Linked DNA regions of Homo sapiens. The protein of the gene in region 1 interacts with the protein of each later gene in a pairwise test. Each region holds a gene or a part of one and is shown on either strand. Other genes may lie near its edges. The genes, in order: TBCB and GAN.

The links.
Region 2: the proteins of TBCB (region 1) and GAN interact in binary tests that used the Homo sapiens proteins (3 or more experiments, as listed by UniProt).

What each region holds. Positions count from the first base shown.
Region 1 is NC_000019.10:36,110,532-36,119,680, reverse strand, and holds the start of TBCB (tubulin-folding cofactor B), read right to left. Parts: upstream 4,214-9,149; 5' UTR 4,121-4,213; coding exon 4,007-4,120; intron 3,912-4,006; exon of another isoform or gene 3,753-3,911; intron 3,641-3,752; coding exon 3,497-3,640; intron 1-3,496. Other genes in the region: POLR2I (DNA-directed RNA polymerase II subunit RPB9), read left to right, coding at 4,825-4,883, 4,968-5,022, 5,269-5,342, 5,430-5,504, 5,615-5,666, 5,864-5,926; OVOL3 (putative transcription factor ovo-like protein 3), read right to left, coding at 6,020-6,228, 6,717-6,921, 8,248-8,312, 8,385-8,478.
Region 2 is NC_000016.10:81,317,893-81,326,735, forward strand, and holds part of GAN (gigaxonin), read left to right. Parts: intron 1-8,843. UniProt on the Homo sapiens protein: Probable cytoskeletal component that directly or indirectly plays an important role in neurofilament architecture.

The DNA.
Region 1 (9,149 bases):
ACCTCAAGTGATCTTCCCACCTCAGCCTCCCAATGTACTGGGTGGGATTACAGGCACGATCCACCGCACCTGGCCTAGACTTTGGTTTTTATCTGGAGCGAAGTGCCACCAGGGCAGGGCTCTGAGCTAGGAGGGCCCTGGCCTGACTCAGGTGGTCCCAGGCTCCCTCTGGCTGAGATGGGGAGCGGGGAGGCCAGGGAGGAAGCTGCCGGGATGGCGAGGTTGGGGGAAGGATGGAGGCTGGACCAGGGTCAGGGAAGTTTTTGTAGGTGGAGCCGAGAGGATTTGATGAGAGTGGATGTGGGGGTGAGGGAGAGAGCGGGCCCAAGGAACACCCTGAGGTGTCTGGCCTAAGCCACTGGGCTAACATGGCAAAATAGGAATGGCCTTTACCTCCGGATGAAGCGTCACTGAGAATTTCTGTTGAGAATTTTCACAAATTTGAAGTTCTGTTATTTTAAACAATGAATATGGGTGATATTTATAAAGAGAAAAAGAATTTTAGAAAATGTAAAAATTCCCCAGTGGCTCCACTCTGGAACACCTTCCTTGAGTGGCCTGGGAGGTCTGTGTGTACCTGAACCGCCTGTTATGAAACCTGCTCAAAGATGCCACTGCCTATGAGGTGCCTATGAACACCCGCACCCCTTAGCTTCAGCTGCCCAGGGTGGCCCAAAGGCTCAGTCCTGTGCACCCAGCAGAGGCCTGACCCACAGCTCCAGACCTCGTCCCCTCATCAGGACTCTCACAGCAGCCCCTTCCTGGTCTCCCTACTCTTCCTGTCCTCCACCACCTGTTCCCCACACACAGCCAGAGGGGGCCTGTGAACACCTGAGCCAGGTCAGGGTCCTCCCCAGCTTCCACAGTGTTTGGCCACAGAAGTGGCCTGTCTTAATCCCCACCGCGCTCCCTCCCACCTTGGAGTGTTTGCTGGGTTGTGCCCCACTCCTAGGGCACCCCTTCCCCATCTTCAGTTAACCTTTTTTTTTTTTTTTTTTTTAAAGATAGGATCTCACTCTATCATCCAAACTGGAGTGCAGTGGTGTGATCTCAGCTCACTGCAACTTCCAGCTCCTGGGTTCAAGTGATCCTCCTGCCTCAGCCTCCTGAGTAGCTAGGATTACAGGCATCTGCCACCACGCCCAGCTAATTTCTGTATTTTTAGGAGAGACGGGGTTTCACCGTCTCGAACTCCTGACCTTAAGTGATCTGTCCACCTCAGCCTCCCAAGGCACTGGGATTACAGGCGTGAACCACCATGCCCGACCAATTCTTTTTATTCTTCTCGTCTCTGCTCCAGCAGCACCACCTCCAGGATGTCCTCCCAGACGTCACTGATGCATCAGGTACCCCAGGATAGGGTCTCCCAGCTTCATGATCTCCTACACAACCCTTGTCTCCCCTGACCCTTCACATTCAGTCCTCTGGCCATTTAGCCAACATCTGCCTCATACACTAGAACTTCTCAGATGCAGTCATAATGAAACCCCTGGCACAACACAGATGGGGAATGAACAGTTAATCAACGAGAGAAAAAAGAAGCAGTTCTCTCTAGAGTCATGTAGACTGGGGCCAAAATGCTACTGACAGTTCATCCTTAAGAAAGTAGATTCTGGGCCGGGTGCGGTGGCTCATGCCTGTAATCCCAGCACTTTGGGAGGCCGAGGTGGGCGGATTACCTGAGGTCAGGAGTTCGAGACCAGTCTGACTAACATGGTGAAACCCCGTCTCTACTAAAAATACAAAAATTACCCTGGTGTAGTGGCGGGCATCTGTAATCCCACCTACTCGGGAGGCTGAGGCAGGAGAATCGCTTGAACCGGGGAGGCGGAGGTTGCAGTGAGCCGAGATCATGCCACTGCACGCCAGCCTGGGAGACAGAGCAAGACTCTGTCTCAAAAAAAATAAAAAATAAATAAATAAACTCCACCCTGAAGCTAAATTTTCTCTTCTGCAAAATGGGGATAATTACATTATCCTTGTGGTCTTACTTTATGGATTCAATTCATCATTCAACAATGATTCACAGGGCTGGGCGTGGTGGCTCATGCCTGTAATCCCAGCACTTTGCGAGGCTGAGGTGGGCAGATCACTTGAGGTCAGGAGTTCAAGACCAGCCTGGCCAACATGGTGAAACCCCAACTCTACTTAAAATACAAAATTACAAAATTAGCCAGGCGTGGTGGTGCACACCTGTAATCCCAGCTACTTGGGAGGCTGAGGCAGGAGAATAGCTTGAACCCAGGAGACAGAGGTTGCAGTGAGCTGAGATCACACCACTGCATTCCGGCCTGGGGAACAAGGGCAAAACTCTGTCTCGAACAAAACAAAACAAAAAACGATTCACGGACTATCCTCCCTGTCCCAGGCACTATTCCAAGTACTGGGGACACAGTAGTGAATTATAGTGATCAAAATTTCCACCCTCAGGGCACTCGAATCCAGGGAGACAGAGAGTAAATAAACCAGATGAGAGAAATCCAGAGTGTGTCAGAGGAGAATTACTTGTAAACACAAAAATCTAAAATAAAGCAAAGAAGGGGAAAGGAATGAGGTAAACGTTAACACTGAGGCCGGTGAAGACTTCACTAGAATACTGACACTTTAAATTAAGACAGGAAGGAAGGGTGAGGCACGCAGGCATATGACAAAAGAACCATTCAGGCCCAGGATCCAGAGGCCGAGCTCACCTGGACTGTGCAAGGAGCAATGTGGCTGCTACAGACTGAGTGAGGTCGGGAGGGAATAAGGACAGAAAGGGGCTGGGCTTGGTGGCTCACGCCTGTAATCCCAGCACTTTAGTAGGCCAAGGTGAGCTGATCACTTGAGGTCAGGAGTTCCAGACCAGCCTGGCCAACATGGCAAAAACCCATCTCTACTAAAAATACAAAAATTAGCTGGGTGGGCACCTGTAATCCCAGCTACTCGGGAGGCTGGGGCACAAGGATCACTTGAACCCAGGAGGTGAAGGCTGCAGTGAGCCCGATAGTGCCACTGCACTCCATTCCAGGTTGGGTGACAGAGTGAGACTCTGTCTCAAAAAAAGACAGAAAGGATGTACTGAGTGGATGCACAAAGAGATCCTGTGTTCTGGTTTCTCCCAAGCTGTCCAGCCTGGTCGCTCACTGTGACCTACCTCACATTCTAGGCCTCTGTACACCCTGCTCCCTCCTTTCCACCTCTTTCTCTTAAGTCACCCTTTCCTCATCCCTCAGCTCAGACATCCCTTCCTCCAGGAAGCCCTCTCTGATTCTCCCAGGTGGAGTCAGGCACCTCTTCTTGGTGGCTCCAGTCCCCTGGGATTTCCTGATCCCAGCCCAGACCACTCTAGGCTGTCCCTGTCTAATGATGGGTCTGTCTCTCGTCAGGCTGCACTGGAGGCTCCACGAAGGCAGGACCTATCTCGGGTATGACTGAGGGCAAAGCCCAGCAAGTGTCTGTTGAATAACCAAATGAAAGGTGGGGTGGGGGAGTGTCCCAGATAGAGAGTCCTCACGTGGATGCGGCAGCCGTCATCTACAGGGTAGGAGCCCAGGAGCGCATCCTCTTGATCCAGCTTGCTGTAGAACTTGTCGTCAACTCCATACAGCTCCAGTTCCATGCAGGAAGCAGGGCTGCCCACCAGCAACTCCAGTTTACACTGTGAGGAGGAGGCAGGGTGAGAAGAAGGAGGCCACGGAGGCCCCGCCCCTTGCATCAATGACCATCGCCACGTCCCTTTTCCTCCAAAAGACCCCCCAGTCAGGACGCACGGGGCCGCAATCCAGCCCCTCGCCTCTTGCCCCCGCCCTCTGGACCGTCGGATTTTTCGCTGGACCCGGCCCTCATCTCTGCACTCTCGAGTTCTCTCCGGACCCGCCCCGCCGCGACCGGGTCCCCAGCCTCCGCAGCCTGGGATCACCTCCGGGCCCGCCCAGTCACTCCCCGGCCCCTCCCAGCCTCCCCCTTCCGGGAACCCCCCAATTTCTTCGCCCCGCCCCTCCGGACCCCGCCCCCATGGCCACACCTTGAACTCAGCGATGGTGAGGCTGCGGCTGTATCGCTTCTCGGAGCGGAAGGTGTTGAGGGAGCTGCTGATGAAAACGGTCACCGTGGGTGCCGACACCCCCGTCACCTCCATCTTGCCGCGCCCTGCGGATGCCTGCAGCGCGGTCCAGCCGCCTCACACCCGCTCCGCAGCCGCCGCCGCCGCTGCTGCTGCTGGGCTATCAGCCCCGCCTCCTGCTCCGTGCCTGACCAATCCGCGCTCTCCTGCCAGGAGCGTCCGCCAATCGCCGCCGTCCCTTCCCCACCGCCAGGAAGAGGGCTCTCCTTACTCTTGGGCCAGCCCAGCCAATCCAGAGGGGCCTTCCATAGTTCACGGTTCTTCCAATAGCGGCCCGGGAAAGGACCAGAACAGGCGGCGAAGACTGAAGCCCGGAGGTAGGAGTGGCAAGAGCTCGCCCAGTCCGCGAAGGGTAAACTCGCGCATGCGCACTGGCCTTCAACCAAGCCAAGCGCCTTGGCTTCTGTCCTGGATGCTCAGTGTTTTGCGGTTTACGATGCGCATCGTTTTCCCGGCTCTGGCACCAGATCCATACTATTCTGTAAACTGAGGCGGCGATGCCCAAAAATTGGAAGCAATTACTCTAAGATATCAAAAGATTGAAGCAAGCCATGAAACCTCTGCGCGGAGAGAGCCGAGCCCGAGGCGGCGGGGAGCCAGCACGTGTGCGCAGCTCCGCCCTCTTTTGGCGAAGCACCTAGGCCTGGCCCCTCCCGCGACCTGTAGCGCGGCGGAGCAAGCGCGGAAGGCTGGGAGGGCTGCGCGGGCTGCGCGTCGCCATGGAGCCCGACGGGACTTACGAGCCGGGCTTCGTGGGTATTCGCTTCTGCCAGGAATGGTGAGGCGGAGGGAGCGGGTGATGTTAGAAGGCGGGCGAGGAATGGCTCCAGAACTAACCCCTGGCACCTCCCCCTCCCCACAGTAACAACATGCTGTACCCCAAGGAAGACAAGGAGAACCGCATTCTGCTCTACGCGGTGAGCGCCGGGGTCTTCCCCGGCAGGTCCACCTGTTCCCAGCGTGGCCCCGCCCTGCCCCCTGCCTCTGTGATCGGACTCCCTGTTCGCCCTCCGCTGCACCTCAAGTGATCCTGACTCTCATGTCCTGCCCATCCCCAAAGAGAGTCCTGTCGTCATATCCTCCGGGATCACCCTGCCCTCTCCTCCCAATCTTGTCTGGAATCCTTCCGTGACCCCCTTTCCCCCACACTCGCCCTCTCGTAGTGCCGGAACTGTGATTACCAGCAGGAGGCCGACAACAGCTGCATCTATGTCAACAAGATCACGCACGAAGTGGAGTGAGTGGCGGGCCCTGAGCTGGGGGCGGGGGTGTTGGCTCTGGAGGCTGGGTCTGAGCGTAATTTTGCACCCCCGCGTCCCTGCAGCGAACTGACCCAGATTATCGCCGACGTGTCCCAGGACCCCACGTTGCCGCGGACCGAGGACCACCCGTGCCAAAAGTGAGCGTTCAGCTGGTACTGGGGAGGTAAAGTGAGGCTCGTCTCCTCACTGGGCGAAGGGAGGAGGGAAGGGTGTGAAGCCTCCGGTGACCGAGCCCCTACCCTCTCAGGTGCGGCCACAAGGAGGCTGTGTTCTTCCAGTCACACAGTGCGCGGGCCGAGGTAAGTGGCGCGAGGGCTTTCTAAGTATCTGGGGCTTGTTTGGTCCTTTCTGGGGGCGGGGATATCAATGTGGGTGACCCTGCGCTTCTTGGAACTCTGCCGGGCCCTTACCTATTGGTGAAGTTCTCTTGCCTGTTCTTTTGGGGTAAGGCGCTGCTGGGTCCAAATCCTTCCTAACCATGCATCATTTCTGCCAGGACGCCATGCGCCTTTACTACGTGTGCACAGCCCCACACTGCGGCCACCGCTGGACCGAGTGACCTCCTCTCTCCCCCGAGTGTAATAAACACCAGATTCCATGCGTGAGTTTTCTGTGTTTATTTGCCTCGTGGGGAGGACGCTGGCACACCGTATCAGGCTGCGCGGTGCAGGGCGCGGTGCTGTGCGTAGGTGTCGGGCCGGGAGCTGGTGAAGCCGCAGTCCTCGCACACGTGCAGCTTCTCGCGGCGCTCACGGTAAGCGTAGCTGGCCGGCTGTCCATGCACCTTAGCAAGGTGAGCTTCCAGGGAGCAGCGCTGCGTAAACGCTTTCCCGCAAGCACTGCAGCGGAAGGGCCGGATCCCTGCACAGATGGGCGCAGAGGGGAGGGCTGGACAGAGAGGGCAATGGGCTCTGGACTAAAGCGCCCCCACCCTGCTTTCCAGTGTTGAGCATTTCTGGTACCTATTCCAAGCTCTTCAGACTCTTCCGCCCATGACCCACCATCTGCTACCGTCACCCAGTGCAGACATGGGCCAGACACCTGTGTCTCCACTCTCCCTCACCAGGATGCTCCCTCCCCTGGGGGATGGAGAGGGAGGCCTTCCCTTGCCTTTCGATCTGGAGCCTGAATCGTATAACCGGCATCCGTCTGCACTCTGCATTCCGTGACAGGCCCCTATTTTGGTGCCACCTTACACCCACCCACTGGGGTCCGAGAGACATCATGTCTTGATTCTCCATACCCCACATACACAAACCATGGACACTCCACAGCCCAGCACCTCTCTCCATTTCCTTCCATCCCCACCTGGGGCCCAGCAACTTTTCCCTGTCCCTGCCACTGCTCACCAGTGTGAGTCCTCATGTGGCGCTTGAGATCGAAGGCGTCATGAAAGCCCTTGCCACAACAGCGGCACAGGTGGCGGCGCACGGGGCTGTGGCACTTGAGGTGCCTTGTCAGCATGCGCTGCAGAGGGAAGGCCTTAGGGCAGAGCGGGCAGCCCAGCGTCCCAGGGCCCCTGGGAGCAGAGGTCAGGTTGCCCTGTGTGGGCTGCTGGAGGGATGCAGGAGTTATTAGCCTCTCTGGCTGGACCCCATCCACCCTTTGTTACTCTGCAAATGAGTATTTACAGAGTGTCCTGAGCCACCACGGAGGATTAGGAAGGCAGGTGGGAGACAGTGATTAGTGTGTGTGCCTGTCACTCTCCAGGGCCTTCCCTCACTATCCCATGGTCCTTACTTTCTCTATGCCAAGTCCCATCTTCTGATGTGACATACACATTTTTTTTTTTTAAAGACAGAGTCTTGCTCTGTCGCCCAGGCAGGAGTGAAGTGGTATGATGTCAGGTCACTGCAACCTCCGCCTCCCGGGTTCAAGCGATTCTAGTGCCTCAGCCTCCCCACGATTACACGATTGTAGGCATGCGCCACATGCCCAGTTAATTTTTTTATTTTTTGTAGAGATGGGGTTTCACCATGTTGGCCAGGCTGGTCTTGAATTCCTGACCTCAAGCAATCCACCCACCTTGGCCTCACAAAGTGCTGGGATTACAGGCATGAGCCACTATGCCCGGTCTATTTTTCTAATTTTATTGTTTTTTTTGAGGGGGGATGGAGTCTAGATCTGTTTCCCAGGCTGGAGTGCAGTGGCGCAGACTCGGCTCACTGCATCCTCTGCCCTGCCTCCTAGGTTCAACTGATTCTCCTGCCTCAGCCTCCTGAGGAGCTGGGATTACAGGCACGTGCCACCATGTCTGGCTAATGTTTGTAATTTTAGTAGAGACAAGGTTTCAACATGTTGGCCAGCCTGGTCTCGAACTCATGACCTCAAGTGATTCACCCGCCTCGGCCTCCCAAAGTGCTGGAATTACAGGCTGACTAATTTTATTGTCTATACATGCAGCCCCAACCAGAATATAAGCTCCATAAAATTGTGGATTTTTGTCTTATTCCCGCTGAATATAACAGCCCATGCCTAGAACAGTGCCTTGCTTTCATGAATATATTACATTCCGGCTGGCGCTTTCCTTCCTCCAATGCATGCACAGCTGAAAAAGCCCTTATCTCCCATCGCACTCCTGTTGCCTTGTCCCATGTTCTGACATAAAGCGGATCATCCACATGTGGGGATGAATCTTGTGCCCCGCTGGAAGAGATCCCTGTGGCTGCCGGCCCTGGTGCCTGGGGTGAGACCTAACAGTAGAGAGCTCACTACTAGGAAAGGAGAGGCATTCCCAACACAGAGAAGTAGGGGCGGACAGGTCCCGAGGCTGGAGGGCGTGTGCAGATGGGTCGGGGGAGCAAGGGGCTGTCAGCTTCATTAAGGCTGAGAGCAGGCAGGAGCGAAACAGCTGGCTTTGCTAGCCAGTTACACACTCACCGCTGTCCACGGATCCCTGACACTGGACGACTGTTGTGCCGGTGGCCCCCCCAGGCTGCTGCAGTCTGAGGAGAAAAGCCAGATGGTGACACTGCGTCTCTCCTGCCCCTTACCTCCAGGCACAGTGAGGGGCCCACCTGGGATATAGGCATCTCCCCGGAGCTGGTCAGGCAGATGGCCCCAGTTGGGGGGCTGTGGACGCCGACTCCTGACCAGGAAGGCGCGGGGCATGCCCTCCGGAAGGCTCTCCACACACAGGGGCTGCTTCCACCTGCTGTCAGACCTCAGCCCCAGGATGACTATCCCTGGTGGGAAAGGAGGGGAAGCCTCTGAGGAACCTCATTCTCTTCATGCAAATTTCCTGGCTGGCCCTGGGAGTGGACTAAGCTGGCTCAGGTTACCCCTGCCTGGGGACCTGCCCATCTTCTCCCAGGTTTTGGAGGGAACCATCCAGCCTCCAGGGGTGGACAAGCACTAGGACCACCAAGCAGAGCCAGGCAAGGGGAGATGGGCCTGGGGAGCTTTTGAGGATAGGAAGAAGAAACAAGGCCCCAGGGGGACTGTCTCCCAGGGGTTGAGGGTCTGTTTGCCAGGCAAATCAGTCACCAGGGGACATCCAGCAGCCTGCCTGGTTATTCAAATCACAGCAGCTGTCTGAGGACACTGAAGGGGCCCCCTGCTGTGATTGCCCTGCTCTGTAGGGTGCAGGGAGGACAGCAGATCTGGATAAATCAGGGCAAAATGAGGATCCAGGCTGTGCATCCTCAGGTAGGATGCCCCACCTCTCTGATCTTCAGATTCCCAGGGCTAACATTCAGCCAGAAGCACTGTTCAGGTGTAGCAGGCACTAAAATACTAGTTTGTTAATAATCTAGCCCCTAGTTACTGCCTGGGACAACACT
Region 2 (8,843 bases), on another chromosome or scaffold:
ACATGAATCAGTCAATATGTGTTTCATCAGTGACAGATGAATTGCTTTAAGTTTATTTGGCTATTGAAGTGATAGAATGTCTTGGGATGTTTTTAAAAATTATCAATTCCGAAGCTGTTTCAAAGTAATTTGACGAATCTGTATCACTAACTAGAAAGAAATTTGTTAATTTTGTATTTTTACTGGTAATTTTAATACCAATAATATTGGGCTTTTATAATGTACTTGTTTGTTTGAATAGCACTTTAGAGAATTATATTGAAACAAAATATATTTATGTATTCTAGAACTTGATGTTTCTTATCTTTCCCTTTTGAAACTTAAGCATTTAGATCTGTGATATCATTAATCTGTGAATTGAATGTTCAAAAGTTTGGTAATCTCTGAAGTTTTATAAAATTCTGATTTTGTTTAATGTCTGTGTTTGGCCTAGTGTTGGTAACTGTCATAAGTGGTTGTGTGATTGTGTGGTTTAGAAGCAGTGGTATGGCCTGGCATGGTAGCTCACACCTGTAATCCTAGCACTGTGAGAGGTGGAGGCGGGAGGATCGTTTGAGGTCAGGAGTTCGAGACTAGCCTGGGCAACATAGTGAGACCCAGTCTGTACAATAATAAATCATGTATATAAAAAATAGGAGCAGTATTGTCTTTTGCTTACTATGTGCCCAACAAAGGAAGCCAGTCCAACTCTGTCACACTGGGAATTAAAGTAACTTGTTTGGCATACTTTCTACTTAATATAGAAAAGTCTTTTGACTTATTGGTTTAATCTTTTATTCTGCTTTATCTTTGGTCTAGCCCTTGTTTTTCCTGCTGACACCCTTAGCAATCCTACCATATTAGAAAGATTTTAAATATAAAAGGAAAAGGCCAGAAAACTCAGCTTTGGCAACACACCCTCATGGTCAGCTCAGAGAGGACTGGCATCCCCGGGTTATGTAGAGAGAGCACGTGTCATGCAGCCCTAGGGTGCAGCTGCTCCAGGAAGGAGGCAGGACCTCCTGCGGTCCCTCAGCTCAGTAAATGGCATGCATGCCCCTTTCCCAGCATGCTCCTTTCCCAAAGCTTTTCCTCCTTTTGGTTCCTGGGTGAGATTTTCTCTTTGGTTTGTTGGGGAAACTAAACCTAAAAGTAGTTGACAGGCTGGGCGCAGTGGCTCATGGCTGTAATTACAGCACTTCGGGAGGCTGAGGCGGGAGGATCCCTTGACCCCGGGAGTTCCAGGATGCAGTGAGCTATGACTGCCACTGCACTGCAGCCTGCCTGGGTGACAGAGACCCTGTCTCTTAAATTAAAAAAAAAATAGATATAGATTATATATATATATATATATCTAACAACCTTTCTAAGAATGGCAAAACCGAATTCATAGTCATAAGCACCCACAGAGCCTTTTCTTTCTCATCAACTCTGAGACCTTCTGGGGAAAGCTCCCTGCGGCTTGCAGGAAATTTATTTTTCTTTTGAATATTACAGTTTGGTCTGCTTCATGTCTGAGGCTCTTCCGATTCTGGCACAGTCCCATTGATCTGATGCAAAGTTCAGACCCATTTCTCTCCTGAGCTGTGGTTCTTGGTGAGTAATGTATGTGAAAAGGATTTGAAAATGAACGGCTATGTGCTTCTGCAGTGACATTATGGTGGCTCTGTACAGGTTTCCAGTCCTGTGATCACTTGTAAAATTTAGGGTTTTCTGGAGACCTATTGCAACAAAAGTTTGTTTAGCTCTCAGTCCTGGAGAGAAAATGAAAAAAAAGATTCCTAAGATTTTTAGATCCTTTGATGAGTCAGCTAAGAATGTAAGTGGCTTCCCCCCGACCCCCCCTTATTTTTTGAGAGAAGGCAGGTCTAGTGAGGATAGAATGAGACATAGGGCCTCAAATCCAGCCTAGGTCATCATGAGCGACTTTTCTGGGCTCTAGCTTCCTTATCTGTGAAGTGAGGTGGTTGGGCTACATGGACAGCAAATCCCCTTTAAGTCTAAGTTATGTAGCTCTATGCTATTTTTGTTTTGCCTCATGTGTATGTGTTGTGAGGAGGAGGACCTGTTTCTGTTTTTATAGCTTTATTGTGTCATTTAAAGTTTTGTTTTATGTTAATATTAAAGCATTTCCATTCCCCTGTCATACAGGACTTTATTGGGTATTCTGTTGTATAAATCCAGGCCTGTAGAGTTGTATCACAACAATCATTTATTTTATGCTGTTAATCTGGGTATGTTCCAAGGCCTAATTATTGATGAGCCTGTTTTGCCATTTAAATATAAAGTTTGACTCACAGATGATACTGATGAAACTACTTAAGGAGACTAATAGGATCTCTGTAGGAGGTCCAAGTTTCATAGTAACATAGACATTATTTTTTGAATATCTGAAACATACACTGTAGTTTAATGTCACATGGGCACTAAAGTCCGTGAGTACTATGTGGTGTGTGCAGAGCCTGCTTTTCATCCCCAGTTTACTTTTGTTGATTAATTTATGTGAATAACTGCATAGCCTCTTATTAGATTCTTTGCTTCCCTGTTAATGCTGAGAATACACTCCCGAGGCAGCAGTATCCACTAAGTGTTCCCTGGTAATGAGAGTCTGGCTGTGAAGCAAAGTGATTTCACAGTAATGTTCAGTTAATAATGTTTTGCTTTCTTTACAATATTTTCATAATCTTTTCTTCACTTGTGTTTCGAGTTTATAGTCTTCATAGCAGCTCCCGAATGATTGTCATAAGGATCTTGAATAGTGATTGTAGCCTGTGAAGTTTCTTAGTGCTCAGGGGTTCAGTTAGAAGCTCCAGTTTCTGAGTATCTTTTGAAATCCTGAGCACACTTAAAATAAAATTGACATTACCTGTTCCTTGTACTCTTATGGTGATGGAAAATAAGCTGGGCTTGAGTCTCTTTTAAGGGATCTAGACTTTGTTTTTATCTACTTACTATAAGGCGTTCCTAACAACTGCTCAGAAGATGAAATTTGTCCAGAAGGTCTTGATAGTTTAATGGTTCTCAGTGATTTTCCTTTTCTTTTTTTTTTCCTTTTTTCTTTTTTGTAATCACAACCTTGTTTGATTAAACCCTATTCTTACTGAGTTTTTCAAAAGCGATAATAACTATGTTCAGTTTCAGAAGATCAAAGACATATTTTATCCAGGCTTCTAAGGAAACTAAGCACTTGTAAATTTCAATTTAACACAGATTACTCATGTCAGTTTAAAGATATTTGTTTATTTTATATAACACAGTGGTTGCCACTATTAGTAGCAGTAGATGTTCTAATTCTGGAGAGGTTTTTGGAAGGTTTCAAATGATGAAACAAATCAACAAAATTCTTGTTAGACTAGTGTCTGTAGCATAGAGGGAAGTGTGGGGTGTTCAGATTTATCGTAGAACTTTCCCGAGGATTGTTATTATGAGTAATAGTAATGTGATAGGAGTAAAACCTAGCTCTGGTTAATTTTCTCTAGTGGATAAGTCCTCACTCTTTTACCTATACTGTTTTTACTTCTGCCTCTTCTTATAGTTTGCATTTTCTCCTGTGATGTCTCCTTCAATGTTCTTAAATTAGTTTTTGTTATATAATTTAGGATTGAAGTAAAATGCTCTTCCACATAGAAACTCTGGTTCCTTAGGATTTATATTTGGATGATATAGAGTAAGCATCCAGTTTTCAAAACCGCCTTATCCATTGTTTAAAGTGTTAATGAGTTCTTATGATATCAAAGTGGGACTTAAAATCTATTTATAATTTGTAAGGAAAACATAATTAGGACAAATAAGGGTTCATTTGGTCTGTGAGTGCCATGCAATAAGTTCTTCACAGGGTTGCATCATCCTTCTGAAAGACACAAGACTATCATTTTGTGTACTAAAGCTGTAATATAAATGAATGATTTGTGAGTTTGAATTCTGGGTTAAGGGTGGAGATACGGGGGTGTGAGATGTGACACGTGGCAGGCTATGGTTGCGACCTTGCATTTGAGCGCTTCCCATGGGTTCTCTTCCTCCTAAGCCACAACAAATCCAAAGAAGGAAGGAAATCAAAGGCTCAGGTAAAGGTGGCAGCTCTGGCTCTGTGGAGGATAAAGATTCTATGTCCATCTAGATGGCCCGACACTCTACCAGAGTTCCTGATTCTGGTGCTTGGAAGAGCAGAGTTAAATCATCTTCCTAAGTACTTAGGGCCAAAGAGTGACTTAGCCATAGAATGATGGTCAGATGTTTGCTGCATTCATTTCTCTCTGGGAATGTGAATGCCCTAATTTCTCATAAAGATTATTACAGAAATACTGCAAAATAGAAATACGTAGTACTTTGCCATTTGCTATTATAGTGAAGGGATTTGGACTTTTCCTCTGTTCAAATAAGTTAGAAAAATGGAATACTTAGGTAAATAAGATCTTGGTGAAATATTTTGTTGGTTATCTCCAGTGTTCACCACATGCAGAGGAGATAAGACATCTCAGCAGCGGCTAGGTACTAGCAAGATGGTGGCAACCAACTGGCAAGGCCTTTGCCCTTCTGGAGCCTCCATTTCAATAGAGTAAGGCTTAGAGGGCCAATGCGTATCATAAATGGAAGATAGGAGGACTAGTTTTTAAAAGTTGACTGTTGAATAATGAAATACAGACCAATTAAATATCTTTGGGGTTTATTTGGATTTGAGTTTTTATAGAAACTTAAATGTATATTTTTGCTCGTAGATATTTTGTGGTTCTCTCAACTACAAAGTTGTTTATGTTTTTAAGAACAATTTTAAAGACCATTTGATGCTTGTGATTTTTATGGTAACATATTAATATGACTAGATATATTTTGAAACATAGTTTTATGGTCCTATTAGCATTCATCAGTAACCAGTTGCCTACACCTCTGAATAATAGTAAATGGTTTAGTATTACTGAGCTCAAAATATTTGCACTTTTGTCACTTAAATTGTTTATATTGATCAGTCCCTGAATTGTAAGAAACTTCATACTGAAACCTCACATTTAGGCTGTGAGTTTGATATGAGTCTTTTCTAACCCACAGAGAACATTCACTAGAAATGAAGCCAGAAGTTTAAGGACAGCGGGATTTTGAAGGACAATGAAAATCCTTAGAAAGTTCCCTGATATTCGTGTTTGCCATTCTCCTCTCCATGCTACAGCCCCCAGTCTACTTCAGTGATGGAGCTGGAGGCCAGCAGGACCCATTGGTTAATTGTATAGTCTTCCATTTGGTTAGTCCAGGGAATAGTTTCCCACAACTTCTAGCTTCTCTTCCTTACATGAAAGTTGGTACAGGGATTTGACACTTAGTATAACAGATAAGAGACTTCTCTCGGGGTTTTTGGTGGGTTTGTTTGTTCTCCTGCTTGGCCTCCTTAACAGCTACTGTCTTGTGCGACCAAAGCTATCAACTTTGTTCCCCGCCTAAAAATTACAATGCCTGCTGTTGGTAGGAAAGGAATAGACATCTCATTTTTATCACCCCCTGAGTGGGGTGCTTGAGCAAAAGAGGTTACCATTTCCTTTATTTATAGGCTTCTTTCATAGTGATCAGAAAAGGGGTTATGAAAATATTCACTGTCATAATAAGTCTTGGGACATCCTTAAGAAATGTCATCACTGCCTTAACCCATATGCTGTGGGGTTGTGTTTACCAATAATAGATTGCAGTTCAAGAATTAGCATTGTCTAAAGTTATTGAGATATACTGTGTATTGTTTCTTCACAGATATATTTCACAGTAAAGGGACCTTCTATATAATTAGGGTGTTGTTTAGGGAGTTGATTACAGGTTTAGTCGTTTAATACATACACAGGAGATAACTCAAGACATCTCAGCAGCATCTATGTACTGGCAAGATGGTGGCAACGAACTGACAAGGCCACTGTCCTCCTGGAGCCTCCATTTCAGTCATTTACAGAGGATTGCGCCCTCCAGGACTCCATCCTCTTGTGCTGCCTGCCATTGGAGCATTGTATTCAGTGGCCTCCCACAGAGAGTATCAAAACTAACCCAGTATGTGGAGACCTATGTCAGTCTATTTATTTTTCTATCTCTGTGGGGCTGGAGAAGGAAATAAACATAAAACTAAAGATTTAAAGATTACTTTTGATTTCACTTAGTTTTTTTATAACATCCTTGTGTTATGGGTAGTTTCAGAATCTCAAGAATGAGCAGAGAATAGATTTGCTGTGTTTATCAGAGTAGAAACTTCTGATAGTCTGCCCTAAAAGAATTTAATTGGCTGATTTGACCCTTTATTATTATAGTGTTACCCCAATTAATCACATTTACAGAAATGACTTTCTTTAAGTAGAGAACATCAGTTCTTGGCTAAGCCTCTCTAATATGCCCGTTTGTTCATTGCCCTTTCTAGACGGAGTGCCAGCATCCATGGGGGCTACCTGGGGAGGTGAGCAGTAAAGGGGTCTAATTACAGAGCCATATGAGTTTGCCGAAGGAAGTCCACAGAGGATGAGCATGGCTGCTGCTGTGGCCTGGGTGACGGGATCCCTGCTCCGAGGTGGTGCCATTGAAACTGAGATCTGAGGGAGGAGGAGACCTAGGCATGAGAAGAGCAGGGGGAGGCACCAGGATCAGGGGTGGCACCAGGACTAGGTCAGGCCTCTCTGGGAACAGAACACCACATACCTGGAGATGGTGAGCAAAGGGTGGGATGGCATCGACAACAGATTAGAGGCTGGGAAGGCCTGTGATCCCTGAGTTAGAGCTGGCATTTAGACTGCTTCCAAAGAAGATGAAACTTCTGCTGCCATGTTGTGTATTGGGAGCTGGCTGGGGAGGTGATAGGATATGAGAAAGGGACAAAAAAGCAATTGATGGCATAGTTGAGTCTGATAGAGAGTTTAGGCTTTATCTTACGGGCTATGGATGGGCAGTGGTGTATTTTAAAAGAGGAATATTTGTTTGTGTATTGTTTTAAAGTCACTCCAATGCAGTGCTGCTGGGTGTGCTCTATAAAAGCCAAGAGTGGAACCAGCGGCCGTTTCAGCAGGTGCTGCAGTTGTTCAGATGGAAAGTGGGATGCCCTGGGCCAGGTTTGGCAGTGGAGGCGGACACAGCAGCTGGATTACAGACATTTGGCACCAGGACATGTTGATGAGGAAAAGGGCAGACCAGGGATGACTCGCAGCCAGGGATGGCTCCCAGGCAGGGATGGCTCCCAGGCACGGATGCTCCCAGGCATGCTGTTGGCTTCTTCATCGTCACCAACAGATGATGTTCATCACACTTACAGTAGGCATTAAAGTCAGGACAGTTTAGGAAGACTAGTGAAATACAGAGCTTACTCTCAAGTTTTACAGCTTAGTTGTGAAAAAACAAAGTATAGAACAAAAGCTATTTTAATTTTACAGATACTTCTAGCTGTAGGAATTGCGAGGGGAAGAACTACTTGGGCGATCACATATGGAGGAAATGGTATTTGAACAAAGCCTTGGAGAGGATGAGTAGGAGTTGGGTGGGTGAAAGGGGACAGCAGGGCCATTGAGGCAGAACAAAGGATAAATGCAGGAACATCAGGCTTGTGTTTGGGGTAGTGAATAGGAACAGTGGCTGGGAGGAAGGTAAGACATATTCTAGCATGCCGGGTTATTGGTTTAGATTTTTACTTTATCATCAGTTGCTAATCATTAAAGACTAGTACCATACTGAAGCCCTACTTTAAGAAGGCATTTAGTTGCTGTGTATCTACAGGACCAGGAAGGGATGAACATGGAGCTACTAGACCAATTGAGAGCAGCGCACTGGGACAGTGTCCTAGGCATCAAGATGGTGGTGGGTCTCCAGAATTAAGGAGGAAATCAACTGGATGCTAATTGAACATGAGAACTAAGAATGAAGAAAAAAGAAGAGATAACAGTTTTGAGCCTGGCTGCCTAGGGAAAGTGGGGAAGACAACAGTCTGTCTTAAATGTGTTGAATTTGAATTAACATTGCTGTTTAAACACCTTAATTATATTCTTCTAGCCCTTGACAGCTCTGCAGAGTACTTCACCTGTCTGTGAATATGTTTTGCTTTCTGCATGTGTTTCTTGTCTCTCTGCCTTTCTTGACTTCCTACTCTTGCTTGCAGATAATTTCATATTCATCCTTCAAGGCCTGGTTCAAGTATCCCTTCCTCTGTAAGATTTTTCCAACTCTGCCAAATAATCACTCCCTCCAGCAGACTCCTTTAGTTCATGGTGTGTGCCTTCAGCAAGGAGTGCATCATCGCCTCATTTAGTGTGGAAAACCAGTAGACATATGGAGTGGGTGATTTTAAAGCCCATCATCTTTTTTGTCCAGGGCCAGGGGCACTCAGTCCGTAAGCAGAACTTTCATACGTAAGATAATTGAGTTGGTTGGGTGCCGTGGCTCAAGCCTATAATCCCAGCACTTTGGGAGGCTGAAGCGGGCAGATCACCTGAGGTTGGGAGTTCGAGACTAGCCTGACCAACGTGGAGAAACACCATCTCTACTAAAAATACAAAAAAAAAAAAAAAAAAAATTAGCCAGATGTGGTGGCACATGCCTGTAATCCCAGCTACTCGGGAGGCTGAGGCAGGAGAATTGTTTGAACCCGGGAGGCGGAGGTTGCGAGGAGACGAGATCGCGCCATTGCGCTCTAGCCTGGGCAACAAGAGTGAAACTCCGTCTCAAAAAAAAAGGATAATTGAGTTGTCTGTGATATGTATGTACAGTCAGCATTGCTTAATGACACCAATACGTTCTGAGAAATACATCATTGGGCATTTTGTCATTGTTCGAATATCACAGAGTGTACAAACCTAGAGGGCATAACCTACTACCCACCTAGACTATCTGATGTAGTCTGTTGCTTCTAGGCCACAGACCTATAC